Homo sapiens: one gene and its partners. The protein of the gene in region 4 interacts with the protein of the main gene of each other region in a pairwise test. Each region holds a gene or a part of one and is shown on either strand. Other genes may lie near its edges. The genes, in order: NDUFAB1, HCK, LGALS4 and TOX2.

Evidence for each region.
Region 1: the proteins of TOX2 (region 4) and NDUFAB1 interact in binary tests that used the Homo sapiens proteins (3 or more experiments, as listed by UniProt).
Region 2: the proteins of TOX2 (region 4) and HCK interact in binary tests that used the Homo sapiens proteins (3 or more experiments, as listed by UniProt).
Region 3: the proteins of TOX2 (region 4) and LGALS4 interact in binary tests that used the Homo sapiens proteins (3 or more experiments, as listed by UniProt).

Annotation. Positions count from the first base shown.
Region 1 is NC_000016.10:23,586,295-23,593,326, reverse strand, and holds part of NDUFAB1 (acyl carrier protein, mitochondrial precursor), read left to right. Parts: intron 1-2,176; coding exon of another isoform or gene 2,177-2,234; intron 2,235-6,007; coding exon 6,008-6,130; intron 6,131-7,032. UniProt on the Homo sapiens protein: Carrier of the growing fatty acid chain in fatty acid biosynthesis.
Region 2 is NC_000020.11:32,097,224-32,102,370, reverse strand, and holds the end of HCK (tyrosine-protein kinase HCK), read right to left. Parts: intron 3,368-5,147; coding exon 3,236-3,367; intron 1,055-3,235; coding exon 852-1,054; 3' UTR 515-851; downstream 1-514. UniProt on the Homo sapiens protein: Non-receptor tyrosine-protein kinase found in hematopoietic cells that transmits signals from cell surface receptors and plays an important role in the regulation of innate immune responses, including neutrophil, monocyte, macrophage and mast cell functions, phagocytosis, cell survival and proliferation, cell adhesion and migration.
Region 3 is NC_000019.10:38,809,938-38,817,952, reverse strand, and holds the start of LGALS4 (galectin-4), read left to right. Parts: upstream 1-5,007; 5' UTR 5,008-5,066; coding exon 5,067-5,111; intron 5,112-5,433; coding exon 5,434-5,522; intron 5,523-8,015. Other genes in the region: ECH1 (delta(3,5)-Delta(2,4)-dienoyl-CoA isomerase, mitochondrial precursor), read left to right, coding at 378-502, 589-637, 824-888, 1,430-1,500, 1,598-1,669, 1,946-2,096, 2,236-2,340. UniProt on the Homo sapiens protein: Galectin that binds lactose and a related range of sugars. May be involved in the assembly of adherens junctions.
Region 4 is NC_000020.11:44,064,834-44,070,130, forward strand, and holds the end of TOX2 (TOX high mobility group box family member 2), read left to right. Parts: coding exon 1-24; intron 25-878; coding exon 879-1,274; intron 1,275-1,896; coding exon 1,897-2,024; intron 2,025-3,816; coding exon 3,817-3,853; 3' UTR 3,854-4,783; downstream 4,784-5,297. UniProt on the Homo sapiens protein: Putative transcriptional activator involved in the hypothalamo-pituitary-gonadal system.

The DNA of each region.
Region 1 (7,032 bases), on a different chromosome or scaffold from region 4:
TGTTCTCCCTTGGTTGGTTTGTCCTCCTACCTTGTTGGGACACTTTGCCTTTCAGGCTGGAGTGCAGTGGCATGATCGTGGCTCACTGCAGCCTTGACCTCCTGGACTCAAATGGTCCTCCTGCCTCAGCTTCCTGAGTAGCTGGGACTACAGGCATGAGCCACCACCCCTAATTTTTTGATGTCTGTCTTCTTTTTAGAGACGGAATCTCCTTATGTTGCCTAGGCTAGTTGTGAACTCTTGGGCTCAAGCAATCCTCCTGCCTCAGCCTCCCAAGTGCTGGGATTACAGGCATGAGCCATCACACCTGGTGTGCCTAACCCTTAAATGTTGGTGGGCTCCCGAGTTCTCTTACCACACATGCTCCCTGGACTCTTCACTCCTGGTTTCTGTTATTGCTGTATATCCCAGACCTCCGCCTCCAGTCCTTGTTCATCTCATTTGGACCATTGCTCATGCTACCTATTCCCTGCTGTGAAATTTCCTCTCCTCAAATCCATCCACTATGCCAACTTCAGAGCAACTAGTCACTCATTTACACCCTTTTTCCCAAAAGGAGCTAAGGCAGTTTTCCTGGGTATAAAAATACCAGATGATATAAAATAGAAGGTAAGGAAAAAACAAAAAAACAAAAACCAAGGGCAATGGCCTAAAATGCAGCCTGGAAGTCTTATACTTGATCCAGGTAGGCCCCGAATCTACACTGTCTAGCAGATGGAGCACAAAGATAATTTCCAGCAGTTCTATGGGGCATGGTACGCAGATGAAGACAGCACTTGTACAAAAAAAAGCTAGCTATTCCAGGACTGGGACCAGGACCAGACAAAGTCCCAGTCCCTTCCCATGGCCCTTAAGGCTCTGCAGACCTGGGCCCTCCCTCTTAGCCTCCAAGCCTGTCATCTGTGTACCATCTCCCAACATGAGCTGATGTCTTCTCACATAGACACAGGCACTGCACTTTCATGACTTTTTTTTTTTTTTTTTTTCCAGACAAGGTCTCTGTCACTTAGGCTGGAGTGCAGTGGCATGATCATATATCAGTGCAGCTTCAAACTCCTGGGCTCAAGCAATCCTTCTGCCTCAGTCCCTTGACTAGCTGGGATAACTGGCCTGCGCTACCACGCCTGACCTCATTTCGTTTTCTTGACCTGTTCTTCCCTCTCCTTGAATTATCAGTCTCAGCTCTTTTCCTCACCAAATCCAAGTCTGGCATCCTCCTTTCCGGCCACTCAAGGACTGAGTGACAACTTTTGTTATTGCATCAGCCTACAGATACTTCTGTCATGGTGCTTGCCATATTTTTATTTCAACTAAAATGATCTGTGGATTGGTCTTTTCCATTAGAGTGTAAGCTTCTTTTGGGGGAAGGTTGTGTCTTATTCATCTTTGCATTTCCAGCCCATTGCACAGTTCTTGGCACACAGGTAAAGTTCCCAGGCTTCTGAGACAGTCGTGTAAATAAAGGCAAGGCATTGTGAAACAGGTGTGTGTAGTGCAAAAGCAAAAAGAGATACTTGACCAATCTCTCAGTGAACGTGATCTTGAAGGCCTGTGCAGAGGCCAGGAAGAGCCTGGCACTTACCTCCTTGTGGTTGACTCTTAGGGTGTCTGGAAGGGAACATTGTTGGGGGGAAGAGAGTGAGCATATCATGAAGGGAGCTGTATGCTGCAGCGAGGAATTGTGGGTATTCTCTGCAAAGGTCATAGGGAGTGAACATGAAACAGGGCTTATTGAAGGAATAAGCCCCAGGTGGCGGAGAAGGAACAGAGGTCTGTAAGCAGGAGTTTTGGAGACAGGTCAGGAGTTCATTTCCAAACTGTTGAGTTTGAGAGGTCTGGGCTGCCTGTGTAGAGTGGACCAGTCGGCAGTTTGTAGAGACGGCCTTTAAAGCCCTCTCCTTAGCCTCCTCTGAGTTTGCCTCAGGCAGAAGTGAGCCCCAGTGGAGTACCGGGATTCTGATGGAACCTCATCTGTTTGAATTACTAGCCCAGAGGGTCATCACTCTTTACCTGCAAACAGTACCTTCTCTGATGTCTGGGAGAGGTGGTTTATTTCCCATATACTTGTTAAGTGTAGATCTTGGGGAAGAACAACTAACACCAGAAACATCACATGTTGGCTGTTGGGGAGGTGCTTGTCCATTTTGTATCCCTTTTATTTTTTCCCAATCAACAGAGATCCAGTTAGAAGGAGCAGCAAGACCTTCCAGGAGGCCATGCTGGAAGGACATGGGGTGAGGAGGATACCTAACCTTCCCTTGCCTCAGTTTCTCATCTGTAAAAAGGAGGGTGATAGTATCATGGATCTCACCAGAATACTGGAGAGCTGAAGAAAGATGATGTGTGTAAAGTGCAATATCATAGCCTGAGCTGATAAGAAATTAATGGAGGCCGGGACGTGGTGGCTTATGCATGTAATCCCAGCACTTTGAGAGGCTGAGGTGAGTGGATCACTTGAGACCAGGAGTTCAGGACCAGCCTGGCCAACATGGTAAAACCTCATCTCCACTAAAAATACAGAAATTAGCCAGGCATGGTGGTGCACGCCTGTAATCCCAGCTACTTGGGAGGCAGAGGCATAAGAATCACTTGAACCTGGGAGGCAGAAGTTGTGGTGAGCCAAGGTCACAACACTGCACTCCAGCCTGGGCAACACAGTGAGACTCTGTCTGAAAAAAAAAAAAAAAAGAGACCAGAGGCAGGAGCATGAGAGGGTAGTAGGATCAAGTATTTTGGGGCTACGCTACAGCCAAGGTATCAAACTAGCTGCTGCTGGTCATTGTTCTCAGGATCCTACTAAATAACCCTAAATAGCACTTACTGTGTTAAGTGCCAGCCAATGTCCAAGCCTTTACTTCATCTCACTGATGCTTCACAACAGTCCTGTGAGTGTGGTACTGTTGTTTATCCCCATTTTACAGATGAGGAAACTGAGATGTAGAAGGTTAAGTAACCCACCCAAGGCCAAACAACTAGTGAGAGCCAGCACCATGGTGCAGGCATAGGTGGTCTAGTTTCAGCGTCTGAGCTCTTGCCCACTAACTTACTGCCTCACGCTGATCCTGATGCAGCACCCACTCTAGATTGGCATGTGGCCTCCAGTCAGAGACTCGTTTAATTTAATCACATGGTGCCCACCTGGCCCTTGTAGGTACTTGCTGGAGCTGCTGAGGACAATGCTGACAACCTAGTTGGCCTCATGGGTAGTTGTGTACGAACATAGAATATACCCTCACCAGGGGTCTTGCTTTGTTGCCCAGGTTGGTCTGGAACTCCTGGGCTCAAGCGATCCTTCCACTTTGGCCTCCCAAAGTGTTGGGATTACAGGCGTGAGCCACCACACCTGGCATCGTACCATTTCTTTTTTTTTTTTTTTTTTTTTTTCTTTTTGGAGACAGAGTCTCACCCTGCCGCCCAGGCTGGAGTGTAGAGCCATGATCTCAGTTCACTGCAACCTCTGCCTCCTAGGTTCAAGTGATCCTCCCACTTCAGCCTCCTGATTAGCTGGGATTATAGGCACACGCCACGATGCCCGGCTAATTTTTGGACTTTCAGTAGAGATGGAGGTTTCACTGTGTTGGGCAGGCTGGTCTTAAACTCCTGACCTCAAGAGATCCGCCCACCTTGGCCTCCCAAAGTGCTGGGATTACAGGCGTGAGCCACCACACCTGGCCTCGTACCATTTCTTGATAAGCACACAGCCTCTGTTAGATCCCTCCAACTGAAATTTCTTTTCTGCCATTGCCATATTACCTCATTTCTTCTCCCCCTTTCTCTTTATTCCTTTCTTCTCCATTTTATTTGTGACTTGGAAACCTATTTGAGTCATTGTTAAGTAGGCCGGTCATGTGCCTGTATAAAAGGTCTCCTTAACCCATGTATAATACGAAAGGAGACTAGACATTTAGACAAAGAAACATGCTCTAAAACTCTTGAAAGTACTCAGAAAGGCTCGTTAGAATATCTATCATACTCTCCAACTCATCTCTTTAGTTTGCTGATTAAACCTGATTTTTTTTTTTTTTTTCTTGAGACGGAATCTCACTCTGTCACCCATGCTGGAGTGTAAATGGCATGATCTTGGCTCACTGCAACCTCCGACTCCCAAGTTCAAGCGATTCTTCTGCTTCAGCCTCCTGAGTAGATGGGATTACAGGCACATGTTACCACGCCCAGCTAACTTATATTTTTGGTAGAGACGGGGTTTCTCCATGTTGGTCAGGCTAGTGTCGAACTCCTGACCTCGTGATCCGCCTGCTTCGGCTTCCCAAAGTGTGGCAATTACAGGTGTGAGCCACTGCGCCCAGCCTAAACCTGATTTTAATAACTGACTTCTTTTTCTTTTCTTTTTTGAGACAGAGTCTCGCTCTGTGGCCCAAGGTGGAGTGCAGTGGCACAGTCTCGGCTCACTGCAACCTCTGTCTGGGTTCAAGCAATTCTCATGCCTCAGCTACCTGAATAGCTGGGATTACAGGCACACACCACCACGCCCAGCTAATTTTTGTATTTTTAGTAGAGACGAGGCTTCACCATGTTGGCCAGGCTGGTCTCGAACTCCTGGCCTCAAGTGATTGGCTCACCTCGGCCTCCCAAAGTGCTGGGATTACAGGTGTGAGACACACATCGGCCCAATACCTGTTCTTTATGCAAGATGAATGTTTCTTCTACAGAGGTTATACTGGTTTGGTTCTCTGGGCAGTATTTATTATGATTTTTCATGGACCTTTGTGAGTTTCAGGGACCTGAGCCCTAACAAGCAGCCCCACTTTCTATAGGGAAATGCCTGAAGAACGCCAAGCCTCGGACTTAAAATCAACTTCAGGAGGTAAACAAACCAATTTAGATTAGGGATTTCTTTCTTTTTCTTTTTTTTGAGACGGAGTCTTGCTTTGTCGCCCAGGCTGGAATGCAATGGCGCAGGCTCGGCTCACTGCAACCTCTCCTCCCACATTCAAGCGATTCTCCTTCCTCAGTCTCCTGAGTAGCTGGGATTACAGGCGCCCACCACCACGCCTGGCTAATTTTTGTATTTTTAGTAGAGACGGGGTTTCACCATGTTGGCCAGGCTGGTCTCGAACTCCTGACCTCAGGTGATCTGCTCACCGTGGCCTCCCAAAGTGTTGTGATTATAGGCGTGAGCCACCACGACTAGCCAGATTAGGGATTTCAGTAGTGAGCAAAACTGCCAGATACCCTGTTTTGTTTTCTCTGATTCTGCGTCGTACCTTCCACAGCATTAAACCCCCTGACCTGTAATTGCAGCTCATTCCACATTTGTTGAATGAAATCTGGTCAATACCCTAATACCTAAACATTGAGCCGACTAATACCAGAGATACGTGAGGTATTGCTCTAACATGGCACAGGCCAGAAGGGCTCATGGTTTGGCTGGTGGCCATGAGGCAAGCCTCGCTGGAAGGGAAACAGATTGGAATGTAGTGACTGTAAGCTCCCTCATCCCCTCTTTGGGTGGGAGGCCAGCTTCCTTTGTCCTGGCTGAGATCAGGGAGATAACTGCTGGAACCAAACTAGACCTTTCTGGTGTATGGTCCTCAATTTGAATTGCCTTTGGGTTTACCATGACAGCTCTTTCCTTTTGGGTTATTTTGACTTGGGTCAGCCTATTAAAGGTGGCAGCACCCTGTAGAGGCCTCGGGATGCTGAAGATGCCATGAGAAGACACAGGCATTCTGCAGACGCTAGACAATTTTAGTGGCAGTTAGTGTCGCAGAGCAGTATGAATGTCCAGAGCCTGAGGGTTGAAGCCAGGAGGCAGAGGGGCCGGTCCTGACTCCCAGGAAGGAGGCCTGAGATGCTGCTGAACTGTTGGGGCTTCTGCGATTACCCAGTCCTGCAACTTAGTGTGTCCTGGTGGCCACAATGAGAATCAGATGCTGTGGGTTCTCTAAAGCCCCGAAAGTTCTGTGAAAGTTACCTATAGGCTTGTGCATTGATTTAGAGGTATTTTCCATTCAATGACAGTGTTTCCTTCCTGCCGTCGCTCTAGGTTCCTGGTAGAGTTACACAGTTGTGCCGCCAGTATAGCGACATGCCTCCTTTGACGTTAGAGGGCATCCAGGACCGTGTTCTTTACGTATTGAAACTCTATGACAAGATTGACCCAGAGAAGGTAACTGATGGTGGTTTGAATTTTTTTCTTTAAATATAGAGTATTTAATTACATGCTAGAAAATGCAAAGGGAAAGATACTCAGTAAAAATCTCCCTGGCTCCCAGACACCCAGGCCCATTCTGGGAGATAGCCAGCGCTACCAGTTTCATGTATGTTTCCAAAGGTACTCAATGCATATGTTAAAGAAGTATACACACGTGTGTATATTATATGTATGTATCTCTCACCCTTTTTAAAAAACACAACTGGCCGGGCACTGTGGCTCATGCCTGTAATCCCAGCACTTTGGGAGGCCGAGGCGGGCGGATCACCTGAGGTCGGGAATTCAAGACCAGCCTGACTAACATGTAGAAACTTCATCTCTACTAAAAATACAAAATTAGCCGGGCATGGTGGCACATACCTGTAATCCCAGCTACTCGGGAGGCTGAGGCAGCAGAATCACTTGAACCCGGGAGGTGGAGGTTGCAGTGAGCCGAGATAGCGTGATTGCAGTCCAGCCTAGGCAACAAGAGTGAAACTCCATCTCAAAAATAATAATAAATAATAAAAACACAAGTGGGGCCGGGCGTGGTAGCTCACGCCTGTAATCCCAGCACTTTGGGAGGCCGAGGCGAGTGGATCATGAGGTCAGGAAATGAAGAGCAGCCTGGCCAAGATGGTGAAACCCCATCTCTACTAAAAATACACAAATTAGACAGGCGTGGTGGCAGACACCTGTAATCCCAGCCACTCGGGAGGATGAGGCAGAGAATTGCTTGAACCCGGGAGGGAGAGGGTGCAGTGAGCCGAGATCATGCCACTGCACACTGCAGCCTGGATGACAGGGTGAAACTCCATCTAACAACGAAAAAAAATTGAATCTGTTGTGTAGGTAAGGCAGTTTTTTTTTTGATTTGG
Region 2 (5,147 bases), about 12 Mb from region 4:
CTCAAGTGATCACCCACCTCAGTCTCCCAAAATGCTGGAACTATAGGCATGAGCCATTATGCCCGGCCAAGTAATGTTATGCAGTTTTGTTGTCTTAAGCTACCAGATATGTGGTAATTTGTTACAGGAGCAAGAGGAAACTAATATAGCCAGTAACTATTTTAGGGCAGTTAGAAAACCTCAAGCATTGAACCCCAATTTTCTTTCCTTTCCTTTCTTTCTTCTTCTTCATCTTTTTTTTTTTTTTTTAAACAGGGTCTCACTGTGTCGCTCAGGCTAGAGTGCAGTGGCACGATCATAGCTCACTGTGGCCTCGACCTCCTGGGCTCAAGCAATCCCCCGCTCCTCGGTCTCCCAAAGCACTGGTATTATAGGTGGGAGCCACAGCACCCAGTCTGAACCCCACTTGTCTTTGTATTTCTGGTCCCCGGGAGAGTCCTTCACCATTTCTGACTTGTCATACAGCAAGAAGGCAAATAGATATTCAGGAATTGGAAGGACAGGAAAACCAACGTTTTGGTAAAGACTTTGGCATTTATATCTTTTATTTAAATATTCATTTCACTATTTTGAAAGTTTCCCTTCCAAATCACAGCTGTAACTAAAATCCAACCATTCCAGGAAATAGAAATATCAACTTGGGGGCTTCCTGAGAATGTCAGATTGTGGATTGCAAGAGTCAAAAAGAGATTTTCCAGTCCAACCTACCCACTGGACAGATGAGGAAACTGTGGCTGAAGCGAGGGTGGGTGTCTGGGAGTAGGAAGGGGGTGTGGGCCCTGGCGGATGGTGCTGGAGCCACCTTGCAGCCACCACCTGGGCACCCCCTGGCCCTGCCCTGGTCCTCCCTATCATGGCTGCTGTTGGTACTGGCTCTCTGTGGCCGTGTAGAAGTCATCCAGCACACTCTGGATGTATTCGAAGGTCGGCCGCTCCTCCGGACGGTTTTTCCAGCAGCGCATCATGATGTTGTAGAGCTCCTCTGGGCAGTTCTCTGGGCGAGGCATCCGGTATCCACGCTCCAGAGCTCGGATCACTTCAGGGTTTGACATCCCTGAAAAGGAGCCGTGGAATTAGAAACGGAAGCAGTTGGGAAATGAGAGCCCAGGGGTGGCAGGCCCTGTGGCCTCCCCAGCAGGCATCACTCCCCACCTCACCTTGCAAGCTGAGCCCCTTCCACTGTGAAAGACAGACTTCCACCCTCAGCTTCACTTGCAGCTAGGACATGGGCCTGGGACCCAGTTTGGGCCAATGGGAGCTGATGGGGAGGTCTGCTGGGAAAGTGATGGAAAGGTTTTTCCTCCCGCTTAGAGGAGAGTCTTTGGAGAACGCACCCTTCATCTCTTCCTTTGAACACTGTGAGATACTTATGATACTTGGAGCTGACAACATGGAGAAGACCATCATAGAGACAGGAACCCAGAGTCCTGACAGCTGCTGAGTTGCTGAACTAACCAGTCACCAATGGAAGATTGGGAGTAATAGATTGCTTCTATTTCAGTTACTCTTTGTCTGTTATTTTGTTGCTTGCTGTGGAACACATCCTAATGGATTCAGCGTCTATTGTGTGTTGCCTGGTTTTGACTAGTGCACCCTCAAGACAAAACATTCAGGTGGCCAGATTCAATGTTAACCTATGGGTGGGACCATTTTTTTGTTCAGTTCAAGTTTCTATTAGCTATTCATAAGAATAGCCATTCAATGTCTGTGATCCCCAATTTTATATTATTAGTCTCAAACTCCAAACTCATGAACTCAAGTGCTTCCTTTACTTGGATGTCTCTATATTTAAGTCAACTCAAATTTAGCAGAGCTAAAACAGAGCTCTCCAATTTCTATCCCTAGACCATTACCCACCCTGTGGTGCAAAGCCAGGGTAATCATCCTTTATTCTCTCTCTCTCACCTCCTAAGTCAGCAAGTCAGATCTTTTCTCCTTTTGAAACGTAGCACCAGTTCATCAACGTATGCCAGTCACGAATGCCACCACCCTGTCCAGACCATCATCACCTCTGCCTGGGCCACTGCTGTGGCCTCCTCACTGGCTGCCACCCTGTTCCCTTTCCCTCCCATTCACTCTCCATGCTGAAAGCATCGCTTAAAAATGGAAATCACCAGCCCGGCAACATAGCAATACCTTGTCTCTCAAAAAATTTAAAGAATTAGCTGGGCATGGTGGTGTGTGTCTGTAATCCCAGCATTTTGGGAGGCCAAGGCTGGAGGATCGTTTGAGCCTGGAAGTTAGAGACCAGGCTGCACAACGTAGTGAGACCAAGTCTCTACAAAAAAATTAAAAAAATAAAAAATAGCCAGACATGGTGGCATGTGCCTATGGTCCCAGATACTCGGGAGGCTGAAGCGGGAGGATCATTTGAGCCTAGGAAGTCGAGGCTGCCATGAGCTATGATTACACCACTGCACTACAGCCTCAGTGACAGAGTGAGACCTTGTCTTAAAAAAAAAAAAAAAGGTGGAGAAAGGACAAGATCTGATTTAAAGTTTAGAATTATCCTTCTGGCTGCAAGTGGAGAATAGGCTGTAGGACGAGGAGGGAGAAAGCAGTAAGACTGATGAGGATGCCGCTGCACCATCTATGGGAGATGACGCTGGCCTGGATGCAGTGGAGACTGTGGGGTTCAAAGTGGTGAGACTTGGGATATGTTTTGGAGTCGAGTGGCCAAAACCCTGTGACTGCTCAGATGTCATAGGGGTGAGGCCAGGCACAGTGGCTCACGCCTGTAATCCCAGCACTTTGGGAGGCCGAGGCAGGCGCATCACCTAAGGTCAGCAGTTCGAGACCAGCCTGGCCAACATGGTGAAACCCCGTCTCTACTAAAAATACAAAAATTAGCCAGGCATGGTGGTGGATGCTTGTAATCCCAGTTACTCAGGAGGCTGAGGCAGGAGAATCGCTTGAACCTGGGAGGCGGAGGTTGCAGTGAGCCGAGATCACGTCACTGCACTCCAGCCTGGGTGACAGAGGGAGACTCCGTCTCAAAAAAAAAAAAAAAAAAAAAAAAAGTCATAGGAGTGAGAGAGAAGGAAGGGCCAAGGAAGCCCCCAGATTTCAGGCTTAAGACATTAGATGGATGGAGGTGCCTTTAACTAAGACAGGAAAGGTGAGGGAAGGTTGGGGGTGAGGATCAAGAACTCAGTTTGAATGGACATGTTGTTGAGATGAGCCCATTGCCAGACTGGGCCCTGGTAGCAGCCCTGAGCTGATGCCCCTTCCCTACCTGGGTAAGGGATCCGGCCGTAGGTGACGATCTCCATCAGCAGGATACCAAAGGACCAGACGTCTGACTTGATGGTGAAGGAGCCAAAGTTGATGGCTTCAGGAGCTGTCCACTTGATGGGGAACTTGGCCCCTGCAGGGTTGAACAGAGCAGAGTCGGGGAAGGCTGGGGAGTAGTGAGGGTTGGCTCTGCTAAGGTGGGGGAACAGGCAAGGGCAAGAGCTGCCAACATCTGCCCCTGCAGACCTGCAATTTCCCTGATACGTGGCCTCCCTGTGGAAGCAAGGGACATCCATCCTGAGGACAGATGGCTAAACAAGGAGGAGTGGGCTTAGGGGCCTGGGGTATGGTGTGGAAGTTCACTCTAGAATCCTCCTCGTTGATTCAGCTGATACCCCAGTTAACTGCAACTCCGAAGAGTGGAATCCCAGAGGTCACAGGTCTTTGGGGACAGAAGGACTTCAGGGGGCCTTGAGTCCAGGTTGCAGCTGATGCCTCAGTCCTCTCATCCTGGGCGATGGGAAAAGGGAGGATTCTGGCTCTCAGCCCATGAGGTTCCCACCAGTCACTATGTGTCTCTCCCTTTACCCGCCCTTCCTCCCACCTAGTCTGACATGGGTTTAGTTAGCCTTTTCATTTTTTTTTTCTTTTAGAGACAGAGTGCCCAGGCTGGAGCGCAGTGGCACAATCATAGTTCACTGAAGCCTCGAACTCCTGACCTCAAGCTATCCTCCTGCCTCAGCCTCTCAAGCCCCTGGGGTTACAGGTGTGCCCCATTATGCCAAGCTAATTAAAAAAATTTTTTTGGCCAGGTATGGTGGCTTGTGCCTGTAATCCCAGCACTTTGGGAGACCAAGGAGGAGGATCACCTGAGGTCAGGAATTCGAGACCAGCCTGGCCAACTCCATCTCTACTAAAAATACAAAATTAGCTGGGCATGGTGGCAGGTGCCTGTAGTTCCAGCTACAGGCTGAGACAGGAGAATCACTTGAACCCAGGGGATGGAGGTTGCAGTGAACCGAGATCACACCACTGCACTCCAGCCTGGATGATAGAGTCAGACTCCGTCTCAAAAATAAAATAAAATAAAATAAAATAAAATATAAAAAAATAGAAAAATTTGTAGAGACAGTGTTTTATTATGTTACCCAGCCTGTTCTCAAAACTCCTGGGCTCAAGTGATCCTCCCATCTTGGCCTCCTAAAGCACTGGGATTATAGGTGTGAGCCACCGCACCTGGCATAGTTATCCTTTTTTAAAAAGTGTTTAGTTTAATTATATCATGGTTGGTGAACATGGTCTATAGAATATATGTTCTTTGGAATTTGTTGAGACCTGCTTTATGACTGAGTACATGGTCAAGTTTTGAAAATGTTCTATGTGTGTGTTTGTGTGTGTGAGAGTGTGTGTGTGTGTATATGTTTTCTCCCTTCCTCCTTTGGATCTACAGACTTTTCTTGATTTCCTGCTTATCTTCTTCTGGTTTAGAAATTATACATTCTACTTTTATTCCTTTAGTCATTACATTTATTTATTTATTTATTTATTTATGTTTTGAGACAGGGTCTCGCTCTGTTTGCCCAGGCTGGAGTGCAGTGGTGTCATCTCAGCTCACTGCAAGTTCCGCCTCCCGGCTTTCACGCCATTCTCCTGCCTCAGTCTCCCAAGTAGCTGGGACTACAGGTGCCCGCCACCACGCCTGGCTAATTTTTTGTATTTTTAGTAGAGATGGGGTTTCACCGTGTTAGCCAGGATGGTCTCGATCTCCTGACCTCGTGATCCTCCCACCTCAGCCTCCCAAAGTGCTGGAATTACAGGCATGAGCCAACGTGCCCGGCCCTATTTATTTACTTTTTTGAGACAAAGTCTTGCTCTGTTACACAGGCTGGAGTGCAGTGACATGATCTTGGCTC
Region 3 (8,015 bases), on a different chromosome or scaffold from region 4:
GAGACCCTGTCTCTAAAAACATTAATGAGTTAATTTAAATAGTTCATTACTCACTACTCACCAGCCAGTGTGACCCCCTTGGGCAAGTGCTTAACCTCTCTGTGCCTTAGTTTACCCATTGGTAACACAAATAGTAATAGGACCTAGCTGGTACGGTTGCTGTGAGGATTCTGTGAGTAATGACTCCACAAATATTAGCTTTTATTTCCTTCCCACCCAACATGCAATCAATCCCTCACCAAGTCCTGTGTGAGTTGTTTTTTTTCCGCCTTGGTGGTTTGGGGGTTCGAACCTGCTGTGCCTGGGTTCTGATCCCTGGTTGAGTCAATGGGTGGGGCCTGGGAGCCTGGATGAGCTCCATCATGCCTTCTCACCAGGTATTGACCTGATGGACATGGCTTCGGACATCCTGCAGCCCAAAGGAGATGATGTGGCCCGGATCAGCTGGTACCTCCGTGACATCATCACTCGATACCAGGAGACCTTCAACGTCATCGAGAGGGTGACTCTAGGGGTCTGGAGGGGATCTTTCTCCATACGCGCCTCCCCTGGGCCAGCCCTGACCCCACTCTTCCTGTTCCCTCTCAGTGCCCCAAGCCCGTGATTGCTGCCGTCCATGGGGGCTGCATTGGCGGAGGTGAGTCTGCGGCTATCCTCCTGCTCGGGTGCTCCCCAGGTGGGGCTGCTGCTCCGATGCCGCGGCCACTGGCATCCAGCCTCAGCTCTGTCATGGGCCAGACTGTGTCCCAAGAGGCAGCCCCACCTCCCGGGAGCCAGGGTTGGTTCTGGTGGTCATTCAGCATCCCTGGCCTCTACCTCCTAGGTGTGGACCTTGTCACCGCCTGTGACATCCGGTACTGTGCCCAGGATGCTTTCTTCCAGGTGAAGGTGAGTCATCCTCCCGAGCTCCTGCTTAGAGCTGGGCAGTGGGGTGAGGTTGGGGGGCCTGGAGTGAGCCTCGAGGGCTTCATGGAAGAGTCGGAGTTGAACCCGACAAAGTAAGACTTGCCCATAGAGGAAGTCAAGAGGTGAAGTTGTGAGTGGGTAAGGTATGAGGTGGGGTTGAGGCTGGCAGGTGTCAGAGGCAGAGATTGCTCCTGGGGCCATACTGGTGAGGGTGGGAGGCAGGATGGAGCCGGGGGATGCAGTAAAGGGGTCTCAGGTAGGGTGAGGAGGGTTCCTCTCTCACAGATGGAGCTGCCCTGAGGGAATGGGAGGGTGCATGAGTGGGAAGGTGGGCTCTATTCTAGGTTGAAGGAACTTGCCTGAGTCAAGAAGCTGCCTGGGCAATGGAATGGGACTTTGGAGGAAGTCACTGGGGTGAAGGTGGGGCGGGACTCTCCAGTAGACATGAAATTTCATGGACGTTGACATTGCGAGGGGCACAGTATTGGGCAGAAACCAAACACTGACCCGATTCCTCCCCCAGGAGGTGGACGTGGGTTTGGCTGCCGATGTAGGAACACTGCAGCGCCTGCCCAAGGTCATCGGGAACCAGAGGTGGGTGCAGGGGGTGTGGGGGTGTGGGCAGGAGACCCCAGAGCATCTCCCAGCCCCGGGGTGGCAGCCGCCTCCTGATGCACGCTTGCCTTTGCAGCCTGGTCAACGAGCTGGCCTTCACCGCCCGCAAGATGATGGCTGACGAGGCCCTGGGCAGTGGGCTGGTCAGGTAGGGCCATGGCCGTGGTAGCTCAGTGCTGGGGGCAGCCAGGCCTGGAGGGTTGGAGGCCTCTCCGGGTCCCCTTGTCTCCTCGCTCTAGAATTCCTAGTGGCATCCTTTCTTGGTGAGCTCATTTCTTTATTGTGGGGTCAGCCCCCTGCTCTGATTGGGCTGTTTCTCTGGGGTCTTGGGCCTTCCTCTGTGAGTGGCCACTTCTTCATCTGCGGGAGGCTGGAGGAGAGAGCCCTTCCCAGCCCACCCGGTCCCTGATCTCTTTCACTGCAGCCGGGTGTTCCCAGACAAAGAGGTCATGCTGGATGCTGCCTTAGCGCTGGCGGCCGAGATTTCCAGCAAGAGCCCCGTGGCGGTGCAGAGCACCAAGGTCAACCTGCTGTATTCCCGCGACCATTCGGTGGCCGAGAGCCTCAACTACGTGGTAAGGTGCACGCTCCGACCAATCACAGCCCTCCTCTAACCCCAGGCGACCAACCAGGGTGCAGGGTGCTCTCATGCTTTATCCTGATTGGCCCCTGCTAATCTCTCTCCTCGTTCTCTCTCAACACCCTCGGTACCAGGCGTCCTGGAACATGAGCATGCTGCAGACCCAAGACCTCGTGAAGTCGGTCCAGGCCACGACTGAGAACAAGGAACTGAAAACCGTCACCTTCTCCAAGCTCTGAGAGCCCTCGCGTCCCAGGCCCCAGCCAGGGGGCCGGCCTTGTCCCGCCTCATCCACAGAAAGGGAGGATGGGCGATGACAGTTGTTTCTATGCCTTCTGACCCAGTTTCCCAGTTTATAACTTTATGACAATGAGTTTCTCAAGCCCAAGGCCTTATCTTCACCCCACAAACAATAAAGCAAAGTAAAGAACCTGGTGCCCTTCTTGGATAGAGGAGAGGTGGGAGGGGCTGGGATGCACCTAGGGGCTCCAGAGACTGCAGTCCTGAAGGCTGGGGCTAGAGGTTGGATGCATGGGAATGGGTGGCATGGAGGTGATGGCCATTCAGACTGGCAGCGGGCAGGCGAGGGGCACAAGGAATTCCGGGGCGGAGGGAGTGAGCAAAAGTCGCTGGGGTCCCTCTGGGTTGCAAGGCTTCCTGGTCTCCCTGCCTGCCCTGGGGTTGAGGGTGGCGTTCGTGCCCTGCCTGGCACCTCTCACTGCACAGCACATGGGATCTGATGCTGGCGTCTCACACCTGTAATCCCAGCACTTTTGGAGGCTGACGCAGGTGGATTGCCTGAGCTCAGGAGTTTGCAACCAGCCTAGTCAACATGTTGAAACCCAGTCTCTACTAAAAATACAAAAATTAGCTAGGTGTGGTGGCAGGTGCCTCTAGTCCCAGCTACTCGGGAGGCTGAGGCAGGAGAATCCTTGAACCCAGGAGGTGAGTTTGCAGTGAGCTGAGATCATGCTGCTGCAGTCCAGCCTGGGTGACAGAGTGAGACTCTGTCTCAAAAAAAGAAAAAACAAAACAAAAAAGGACTTTGGGGTTTCTGGCCGGGTGCAGTGGCTCATGCCTGTAATTCCAGCACTTTGGGAGGTTGAGGCAGGTGGATCACTTGAGGTCAGGAGTTTGAGACCAGCCTGGCCAACATGGCAAAACCTGGTCTCTACTAAAAATACAAAAATTAGCCAGGCGTGGAGTAAGCCTGTAATCCCAGCTATTCAGAAGGCTGAGGCAGGAGAATCCCTTGAACCTGGGAGGTGGAGGTTGCAGTGAGCTGAGATGGTGCCACTGCACTGCAGCCTGGGTGATAGAGCAAGACTCTGTCTCAAAAATGAGCAAACAAAACTTTGGGATTTTTTATCCATATATCATCCCAATCTTCCGGATTTATGTTTGGAATGACTGCAAGAGACCAAGCATTAAGTTAATGACTTCTATATGCTATGTCCTGTTCTGAGCATTTATTATCTTAATGATCAAGGACTCTATGAAGTTGATACTATTATGATTATTATTATTATGACTATTATTGTTGCTATTTTTAGAGACGGACTCTTAGTCTGTCACCCAGGCTGGAGTGCAGTGGCATGATCATAGCTCACTGTAACCTTAACTCCTGGGTTCAAGCGATCCTCCTGCCTCAGCCTCTGAGTAGCTAGGAATACAGATGTGTGCTACCATGCCCAGCTAATTTTTATTTTATTTTTGTAGAGATGGGGGTCTCACTATGTTGCCCAGGCTGGTCTTGAACTCCTGGGCTCAAGCAGTCCTCCTGCTTCAGCTTCCCAAATTGCTGGGATTGTAGGCACAAGCCACCACACCCAGCCTAAGGTTGATACTACTCTTTTCTTTATTTATTTATTTTTCTGAGTGGCAGTTGGACCCACAGCTAGAACTTATTTGGCAGATTAATAACATACAGGCATTACTGGATCACAAATTCATTTTTAAAATATTTTGATAGCTATTCAATACTTGTTTCCTCTCTTATGAATTCCTTTTTTTTTTTTTTTTTTTTTGAAACAGAGTCTCCATCTGTCATCCAAGCTGGAGTGCAGTGGCGTGACCTTGGCTCACTGCACTCTCCTCCACTCAGGTTCAAGTGATTCTCCTGCCTCAGCCTCCAAGTAGATGGGATTATAGGCACCCACCACCATGCCTGGCTAATTTTTGTATTTTTAGTAGAGACTGGGATTTTGCCAGGCTGGTCTCGAACTCCTGCCCTCAGGTGATCCATCCACCTCGGCCAGTCAAAGTGCTGGGATTACAGGCATGAGCCACTGCACCCAGCCGATACTACTATATCCCCATTTTACAGATGAGCACATGGGCAAATTGAGGGTAAGGCACTGACCCATGATCATACAGCTGAGAAGTGGCAAAGGCAGGATTTGAACCTAGAACCTCTGGCTCCACACACTAGTAATCTAAACCACTCTCCCTACAATACAACATACGTGGTAAAGATGTGTGGTGGGCACGCAATCAACGTAGGTCCCTTCACAGTTGCTGGGAGAGGCAGGAATTTGCAGTTCCTCCGCGTTCTCCTCCTCCGCTGCCCACCTGTCCTGGGTCATTCCTGCAGCCTGCCCTGCCCTGCCTGGTCTCACCCTCCCTCTGCCAACAGAAGTCTGGGCAGGGTTTTATGGGCTCTGATAAGGCCCTGGCAGGGCCGAAGTTCATGAGCACTTCCTCTTTGCAGGAGGGCGTAGGGGAGGGGACCCAGGTGATTTGGGTCCTGGCTGGTCACCAGGGAAGCTGGCAAGGGAAGGGAGACTAGGGTGCGCTCTAGGAGAAGCCGACAGCCTGAGAGTCCCAGAAGAGGAGCCCTGTGGACCCTCCCCTGCCAGCCACTCCCTTACCCTGGGTATAAGAGCCACCACCGCCTGCCATCCGCCACCATCTCCCACTCCTGCAGCTCTTCTCACAGGACCAGCCACTAGCGCAGCCTCGAGCGATGGCCTATGTCCCCGCACCGGGCTACCAGCCCACCTACAACCCGGTGAGATGCCAGCTCAGGCCCCACTCCGCCCGCAGCTCCGTCCATAAGCCCTCACACCAATTTTCCCCACTCTGATCCTGGGGGGCCCCATCTGACTCTGTGGTCTGATTTACCCAAAGCTGACCCCGACCCTCGATTTACTCCTACCCTGACCTCAGGCTGTCTGTGTCCACGTCTAACTGTTGGCCCTCGTCATCTTCAACCTGGTCCTCCCCCATGGTTTCCTCTCTCCTGCTTAAGGGACTGGGGGGCTTTTCTGGGAGGGGTAAAGGCTGCAACAGGCAGATGGCTTGTGAGTCCCCTCACCAGGCCTCTTCTCCAGACGCTGCCTTACTACCAGCCCATCCCGGGCGGGCTCAACGTGGGAATGTCTGTTTACATCCAAGGAGTGGCCAGCGAGCACATGAAGCGGTAAGACCCTCCCCAAGCCAGGCCGGGCTGGCAGGGGACTTCCAACTGGGTGCTCTGGGCCTGGCTGTTGGGGGCTTTCTGCCCTTACCCCACCCTGGTGGAGAGGGGACTCTTTTTCTGCCCCACCCAATAGCCAGAGATGAATCTGGGGCAGATCAGGAGTGGGGACGTGGGGGCCAGAAGGTTCAGGGAGGGCTCACCGTGAGAGGCAGTCCCTGAGTTGGACATTAGACTGAAGCTGATGGGTGCAATGGCAGGAATTCAGATCACAGGCTCAGAGCCGGGTCCCCGAGTTAAAATCCCAGCTCTGCCACTCCCCAGCTCTGTGTTGGTGAAAGAGTGAAAGTGACTATACCTCTCTGTGCTTCATTTTCTTTTCTTTTCTGTTTTTGTTTTTTTTGTTTTTTTTTTTGTTTTGAGATGGAGTTTTGCTCTTGTCGCCCAGGCTGGAGTGCAATGGCATGATCTTGGCTCACTGCAACCTCTGTCTCCCAGGTTCAAGCGATTCTCCTGCCTCAGCCTCTTGAGTAGCTGGGATTACAGGCATGTGCCAGCACACTGGCTAATTTTTGTATTTTTAGTAGAGATGGGGTTTCACCATGTTGGTCAGGCTGGTCTCGAACTCCTGACCTCAAGTGATCCTCCCATCTCGGCCTCCCAAAGTGCTGGGATTACAGGCGTGAGCCACTGCGCCTGGCCCAGTCTTAGCTTTTTAAAAAGGGCCTTAACACGTTGATAATGATTGGCCTCATAGGACTTTTTTTTTCCTTAGAGATAGGGTCTTGCTCTGTTGCCCAAGCTGGAGTGCAGTGGCACAATATTATAGCTCACTTCGGCCTCCAACTCCTGGGCTAAAGTGATCCTCCTACCTCATCTTTCCAAGCAGATGGGACTACAGACATGTGCCACCATGCCCAACTAATTTAATTTTTAATTTTTATTTATTATTATTATTTGTTTTGTAGAGACAAAGTCTTGTTATGTTGCCCAGGCTGGTCTTGAACTCCTGTGCTCAAGCGATCCTCTAGCCTCGGCCTCCTAAAGTGCTGGGAGGATCAGGCACTGGTATGAGCCACTCTGCCCAGCCTGTTGTTTATTTATTTATTGTTTACTTCTTCACTGAGTGCCTATTCTGTGTCCTGGCACTAGGGATGGAGGAGTGAACAGGACAGAGACCCCTGCCCTCGTGGAGCTGATGTCCTAGTAGGGGAAACATAAAAAATAAGTCCAGGCCGGGCGCGGTAGCTCAGGCCTGTAATCCCAGCACTTTAGGAGGCCTAGGCAGGCAGATCACCTGAGATCGGGAGTTCAAGACCAGCCTGACCAAAATGGAGAAACCCTGTCTCTACTAAAAATACAAAATTACCAGGGCGTGGTGGCGCATGCCTGTAATCCCAGCTACTCAGGAGGCTGAGGCAGGAGAATCACTTGAACCTGGGAAGTGGAGGTTTCGGTGAGCCGAGATCGTGCCATTGCACTACAGCCTGGGCAACAAGAGTGAGACTCTGTCTCAAAAAAAAAAAAAAAAAAAGTCAAATATGTAAGATGTCAGATGATATTAAGTGCTATGAAGAAAATGAGGAGGGAAGGGAGATGGGGAGTGTATGTGCGGACAGAGGTTCCCTTTAAATTGTCCCCTTAAATAGGGTGGCCTGGCCGGGCATGGTGGCTTACGCCTGTAATCCCAGCACTTTGGGTGGCTAAGCCAGGCAGATCACCTGAGGTCAGGAGCTCGAGACTAGCCTGGCCAAAATGGCAAAATCGCATCTGGCTGGGCGTGGTGGCTCACGTCTGTAATCCCAGCACTTTGGGAGGCAGAGACGGGCGGATCACGAGGTCAGGAGATCGAGACCATCCTGGCTAACACAGTGAAACCCCGTCTCTACTAAAAATACAAAAAATTAGCTGGGCATGGTGGCGGGTGCCTGTAGTCCCAGCTACTCGGGAGGCTGAGGCAGGAGAATGGCGTGAAACCAGGAGGCGGAGCTTGCAGTGAGCCAAGATTGCGCCACTGCACTCCAGCCTGGGCGAAAGAGCGAGACTCCATCTCAAAAAAAAAAAAAAAAAAAAAAAAAAGGCGAAATCTCATCTCTGCTGAAAATACAAAATTAGCCAGGCATGGTGACAGGTGCCTGTAATCCCAGCTACTTGAGAGCCTGATGTGGGAGAATCACTTGAATCCTGAAGGCAGAGTTTGCAGTGAGCTGAGATCGCATCACTGCACTCCAGCCTAGGTGACAAAGGGAGACTGTCTCAAAAAAATTAAAAAGGTGGCCAGAGAAGGCCTGCCTGGGAAGGGAACATATCAGCAAAGAACAGAAGGAACGGAGAGAGGGATCCCCAGGGACAGCTGAGGGAAGGGCCTTCCAGGCAGAGGGAACAGCCAGTGCAAAGGCCCTGAGACAGGCCTGTCCTGGGGAGTAATTTCAAGGATGCTGGTGTGCCCAGGGGTGCGGAATATGATGCGTCATGGGTGTACACAGGGACCCTCTG
Region 4 (5,297 bases):
TACCGGGCTAGCCTCGTCTCCAAGGTAACACCCGGAATCTCCAGGCACAGCCCTGATCAGAGTGGGGCCACTTGAGGAATGGAGCAAGAACTGGGGCCCGTGGGAAGGGCCGGCACCCCAGGTCTTAGAAAGAATGGCTCAGACCTACATGGTCATGTCTGCAGGGCACCTACAGCATGCCAGGCTCATTCTGGGCACTTTACATGCATTTCATTGGCTTCTTCCAACAAGAACCCAGCACCCAGAGGGGTTGAGCAACTTGCCTGAAAAGATCCAGTTTGTTAAAGTGGCCGCACTAGGATTCAAACCCAGTTTTGCCAGTTTTATGTGGCCTTCACTTCTGACCGCTGATGGGGCTTGGGACACGCTACCCCAAAATATGGCACCTCCTCACCACACCGTCGGCCTCCTCTGTCAACACCAGCAACGTAGGAAGCTAAGTGTGGCTGCGGATGCGTGGCCCAAGTGGAGGTGGGTGTTGTTCCTGGTACAGAAGAGATGGCATCCAAACTGGTCTATAACAGGCCAAGTAAAAGGTGGTTCAAAGTCAAGGGAAAAACATCTACAAAGGCACAGAGGTTGGAAGGAGCATGATTAGAGCTGGCTCAGTGGGATGGTGCTTGTCTCACTGGCCAGGCTGAGGAGCATGGATTCCCCCAAGGGCAGGGGAGCCCCCCAAAGATAAAAGCAGTAGGTGACTGGATGGTCAGAGCCAAGGGGACTAAGGACCCTGTGCTATCTCTGGTTAGTCCAAGCTCTCTCCCAAGACAGCCAGCCAGCAGCCGTGTCAGTGGGTTGCAGAGCCTCCTGGCCTCACAGCCCATGTTCTGGCTCATCCCTCTTCTGTTCTCCAGTGACTGATATCTGTCTCCTTCCAGAGCTCCCCAGATCAAGGTGAGACCAAGAGCACTCAGGCAAACCCACCAGCCAAAATGCTCCCACCCAAGCAGCCCATGTATGCCATGCCAGGCCTGGCCTCCTTCCTGACGCCGTCGGACCTGCAGGCCTTCCGCAGTGGGGCCTCCCCTGCCAGCCTCGCCCGGACGCTGGGCTCCAAGTCTCTGCTGCCAGGCCTCAGTGCGTCCCCGCCGCCGCCACCCTCCTTCCCGCTCAGCCCCACACTGCACCAGCAGCTGTCACTGCCCCCTCACGCCCAGGGCGCCCTCCTCAGTCCACCTGTTAGCATGTCCCCAGCCCCCCAGCCCCCTGTCCTGCCCACCCCCATGGCACTCCAGGTGCAGCTGGCGATGAGCCCCTCACCTCCAGGGCCACAGGTAAGCAGGGAAGAGCAGAACAGCCCTTCTGTGACCGTGTGGGGAGGGGAAGCGGCTTTGCCCTTTCAAACCCTGGCCCTGCCACTCACCAGTGATATAACCTCAGCCTTGGCACCTGACCTCTCTGAGCCTCAGTTACCACATCTAGGAAGTGGGTCTCGCACACCTTACCTGAGATGTGCTGGCTGCAGTGAACAGTTCACGAGTTGCCAGACTGACTCTTAGGATACTCCAGTCCCCCCTTCCTGCATCCTCAGCCCTAGCCCTGGCCCTTCCCAAAGCCTTCGAGACCTTACCCCCGCTAATTGTTCCACAGAGATTGCTACGAGGTTCACATGGCCCTTAGAGGTCATTGGGTTCAGTAATTCCATTTTACAGATCGAGAAACTGAGGCCCAGAAAGGGAAAGGCCCTGAAAGCCAAGTCCTTCAGCCCCTGATTCAGCCAAGACAAGGGTTGAACATTTTGAAAGGTGCTCTACTGGGAGCAAGGCAGCAGCCCTGGAGGCAGCATCTCTTTGGTGTGGACACCCTTGGACACATGGGCTCTCACCCCGGGAGGCCTGGGACAGTCTGCCCCCTCATCTCTCCTTGGCTCATGGCCTCCTCCTTCCCACTCTGTAGGACTTCCCGCACATCTCTGAGTTCCCCAGCAGCTCGGGATCCTGCTCACCTGGCCCATCCAACCCCACCAGCAGCGGGGACTGGGACAGCAGCTACCCCAGTGGGGAGTGTGGCATCAGCACCTGCAGGTTAGTCCTCGCCCGTCCCTGCCTTTGTCCTGCCAGCCAGGGAGAGTGGGAACAGGATGGCCAGGGATGGGAGAATGGCCAAGGGCAACGTGGACAGGGGAGGACCCTGCAGTCACTGTCAGCCCTGCTGAGGGGATCGATATCTCAGATGACACCGCAGAGCCAGGCCCCGGAAGGACTCTGCTGGCCTGATGCTGAGGCCTGCTTGGGAAACTGACTAGTCTTCAGTCTTGCTGCTTCTTCCTTGCTCCTGTTTTTTTCACAAGTGCTTCCACGTGACATTCACAGATGAGTCCTGCATCTTAGGCCAGTTCCCTAGAAGCAGAGCCTGAGGCAGCAGGGATTGGGTGCCTTTGGGGATGCACTGGGGAAAGCTTGCAGGAGAAGGGGGTGAGGGAGGCAGGACAGGGTGGGGGAAGGAGCTGAGGGGGGATGTGGCCTCAGCTGAAGACTTGCTTCTGCCTCATCCCATGGGAGCCCTGGAGCATGAACGGTGCTAGAGTGGCTCCCACCTGGAGGTCAGGGAACTGGCTTTTTGAACCCTTCATCAGTCAGCCCTTGGCTGTGGGCTGCCCCGGGGTGAGTGTAGCCCACTGGGCAGGGCAGCTCCCAAGACTAGAACAGCTAAGAATGCAGGACAGGGGACCTCGGTGGGACACGGTGGGAGAAGGGACCCACTGTCTATCCCAAGGAATTACAGACACCTTAGAGACCCCTTCTCCCTGCACCCCAGTGTCCTCCCTAGTCCTCCTGTGGGCCTCCTGTCTCAGGCCTCTGTTCCTATCCTGCACTCCACCTTTCAAACCCATGCTAACACCTCCCTCTAGAAAGTCTTCCTGGATCCACGCCACCCCAACTCTGGGGAAGAGTGACCTTTCAACAACCGCAGCCAGCAGGAGAGGGAGAGTGCAGTGAGGAGGGACACTTGCTCCTTAACCCGCCAGCCAGGTTCCCATTCCCTTGGCAAAAATGAGTCCCGCAGCCACACCTGGGGGACGTAGTGCCAAGCAGCTGTCCCAGCGATAGCGCCACAACCTGGAAGGCACAGCGCACTTGTCGGGTGGCCACCTTGCTGCTGAGAAACGCTGCCCCCAGCCCTAGCCTCGGCCTCCCAGCACACGGCTGGTTCCTCTGCTGACCCACCAGCGCCCTTGGACACTGAACAAGTGACCAGCGCGCATGCCCCATTTCTGACATGCCTGAAGTGAGATTCTACATGGGTGGGTGGACTCAGCTCAGCAAGAATCCCTTCCCTGCACCCCAAGCAGGTGCAGACCCTCCTACCCCAGCCCTTTCCTGTCCCTAAGTTTCCTTCTCAAAAGTCAGAATACTTAGGGTATGTAGGGGAGTGTCACACAATGTCCAAGCCTCCTGAGGCTTGCCCATCACATCCAGCATGGAGGTCAGACCCCAGCAGGGCCGTATTTTAAAAACATAAAAAGCACCTGTCCTCCCTTAATTCAGTTTGAGATTTACAAATTCCTGTGATTAAAAACCCATGTGAGAGCAATGGTGACATCGGCGTGCGCCTCGATGAAAGACAGACACGCTACTGCCCTTTCACCCAGAGCTGAGGACCGGGTGGTCCCCTGCTGGGTTTCCGGGAGGGGTTTGGTTCTGCTTGGTGTAGAGGTGGGTGGGGGTGGGACTTGCAGATGCAAGTCCCTCATTCAGCCACAGAGGGGCAGCTGAATCCAGGGGTGGGGGTGGGGCGTACAGTGCAGGGGTCCTGGTGCTCCCCTGGCCCGGAGAGGTACCCAACAGCTTTGACAGCCCCTCCTCTCTCTCACAGCCTGCTCCCCAGGGACAAATCGCTCTACCTCACCTAATCCCGCCTCCCTACCATCCCTGAGGCTCGCTGGAAGGCACTGCTCAGAGCCTGAAGGGCTGACAGCAGAAAAGAGGCCCTGGCCAGAGGCAGGGTGGCCCATCGGAGAGAGCAGTGACACACCCATTGCCCGGGGGCTGAGTCTCTTCCTCAACCTCCCACCAGACTCTGCAGAGGCAGCCCACTGCCCACCACCAGCCCAAAGAACCTGCAGGAACCTTCCGCCCGCTGACCTGCTTGCTCCAGGGTAACTGTGGACCCTGTCCTCGCCCTGCGCACGGTACCCTATGTCTGGACACCCGGCCCCAGCTCCAGCCCCAGCCCAGGTGGGCCGCCCCTGGCGGGGTCGCTTACCAACGGACACCCACCCCAGATGCATGGGCCAGAGGGCCGGCCCCCGGCATAGATGTGCACATCGGTTTTCCAGTGTGAACAAAAGATTACGAAACCTAGAAACTGTTGGTTCCGTGTAAGTAGTTGACTACGTGTTTTAGAACTGTGCTGAAGACATCTGTAAGACTATTTTGTGGGGGAAAAAAGTAGTTTCCTTTAAGGTAAAAAGCATTTTATATGATCCTTAGCACATTTTTAAGTTTTATCTTAAGGGAGACGCGCACAAAAGCGGCTGCCAAACCGTTTCGTCATCCTCACAGCAAGGACCGGACGCTTGCTAGCCACCCCGGAGCACTGCTCTCCTTTTAATCATGTATTCATCTATTTTAAATTGCCGGCGACGACTTTTGTCTATTTATGAAGAAACCTTGAGAACGAAGTTACAGCTTATCCTACCGTGTGTGTGGTTTTGGGGTTTCGTTTGGGTTTGGGTTCTTGACGTCGTTTGCAGCTGTTTCCTGGCCCTGGCGAGTGTCTGTCTTGGTGCCCAGTGCTTCTCTCAAATCTCTTTATAATAAAACTTCTGAAAAGCTGAAAACAAGTCTGTGTCTCCTTGCCCTTGGTGAGCCAGGGTTGAACCCCCTAAAGTGGCATAGAGCCCCTCGGGCCAGACGGACACGGGTCAAAGTCTTGCCTGACCTTTACCAGCCCATGTGGGTTTGTGTGTGGGTGATGGGACCACTCTGACCTCAGTCTTGCCCTCTAAGGGGGTAACAGTGGTCAGACCCGTAGGGCTCTTGCGACGATGAGAAGGGGTGTGGGCAAGAACGCCGCCACACAGGAACTTGCATCAGCTGGTGACAGTGGCGAGCCCTTCCTCTGGAGGATGGGGCCACCCAGGCTTGTGGAGGTGAGCAGTGGGAATCCAGGGAGGAGGCCAAGGGGTTTTTCAAACCTGAGTGTAGGAAGCATCCCAGACAGGGAATTCTTTAAACCAGATTTCCCAGCAGATGTTAGATGGTGATACTAACAACGACAGCAAACAACAACAAAAGGCAAATAATAGTTGACTGTTTTAACTACATCTGGAAAAATACCAATTGCCTGGTGGG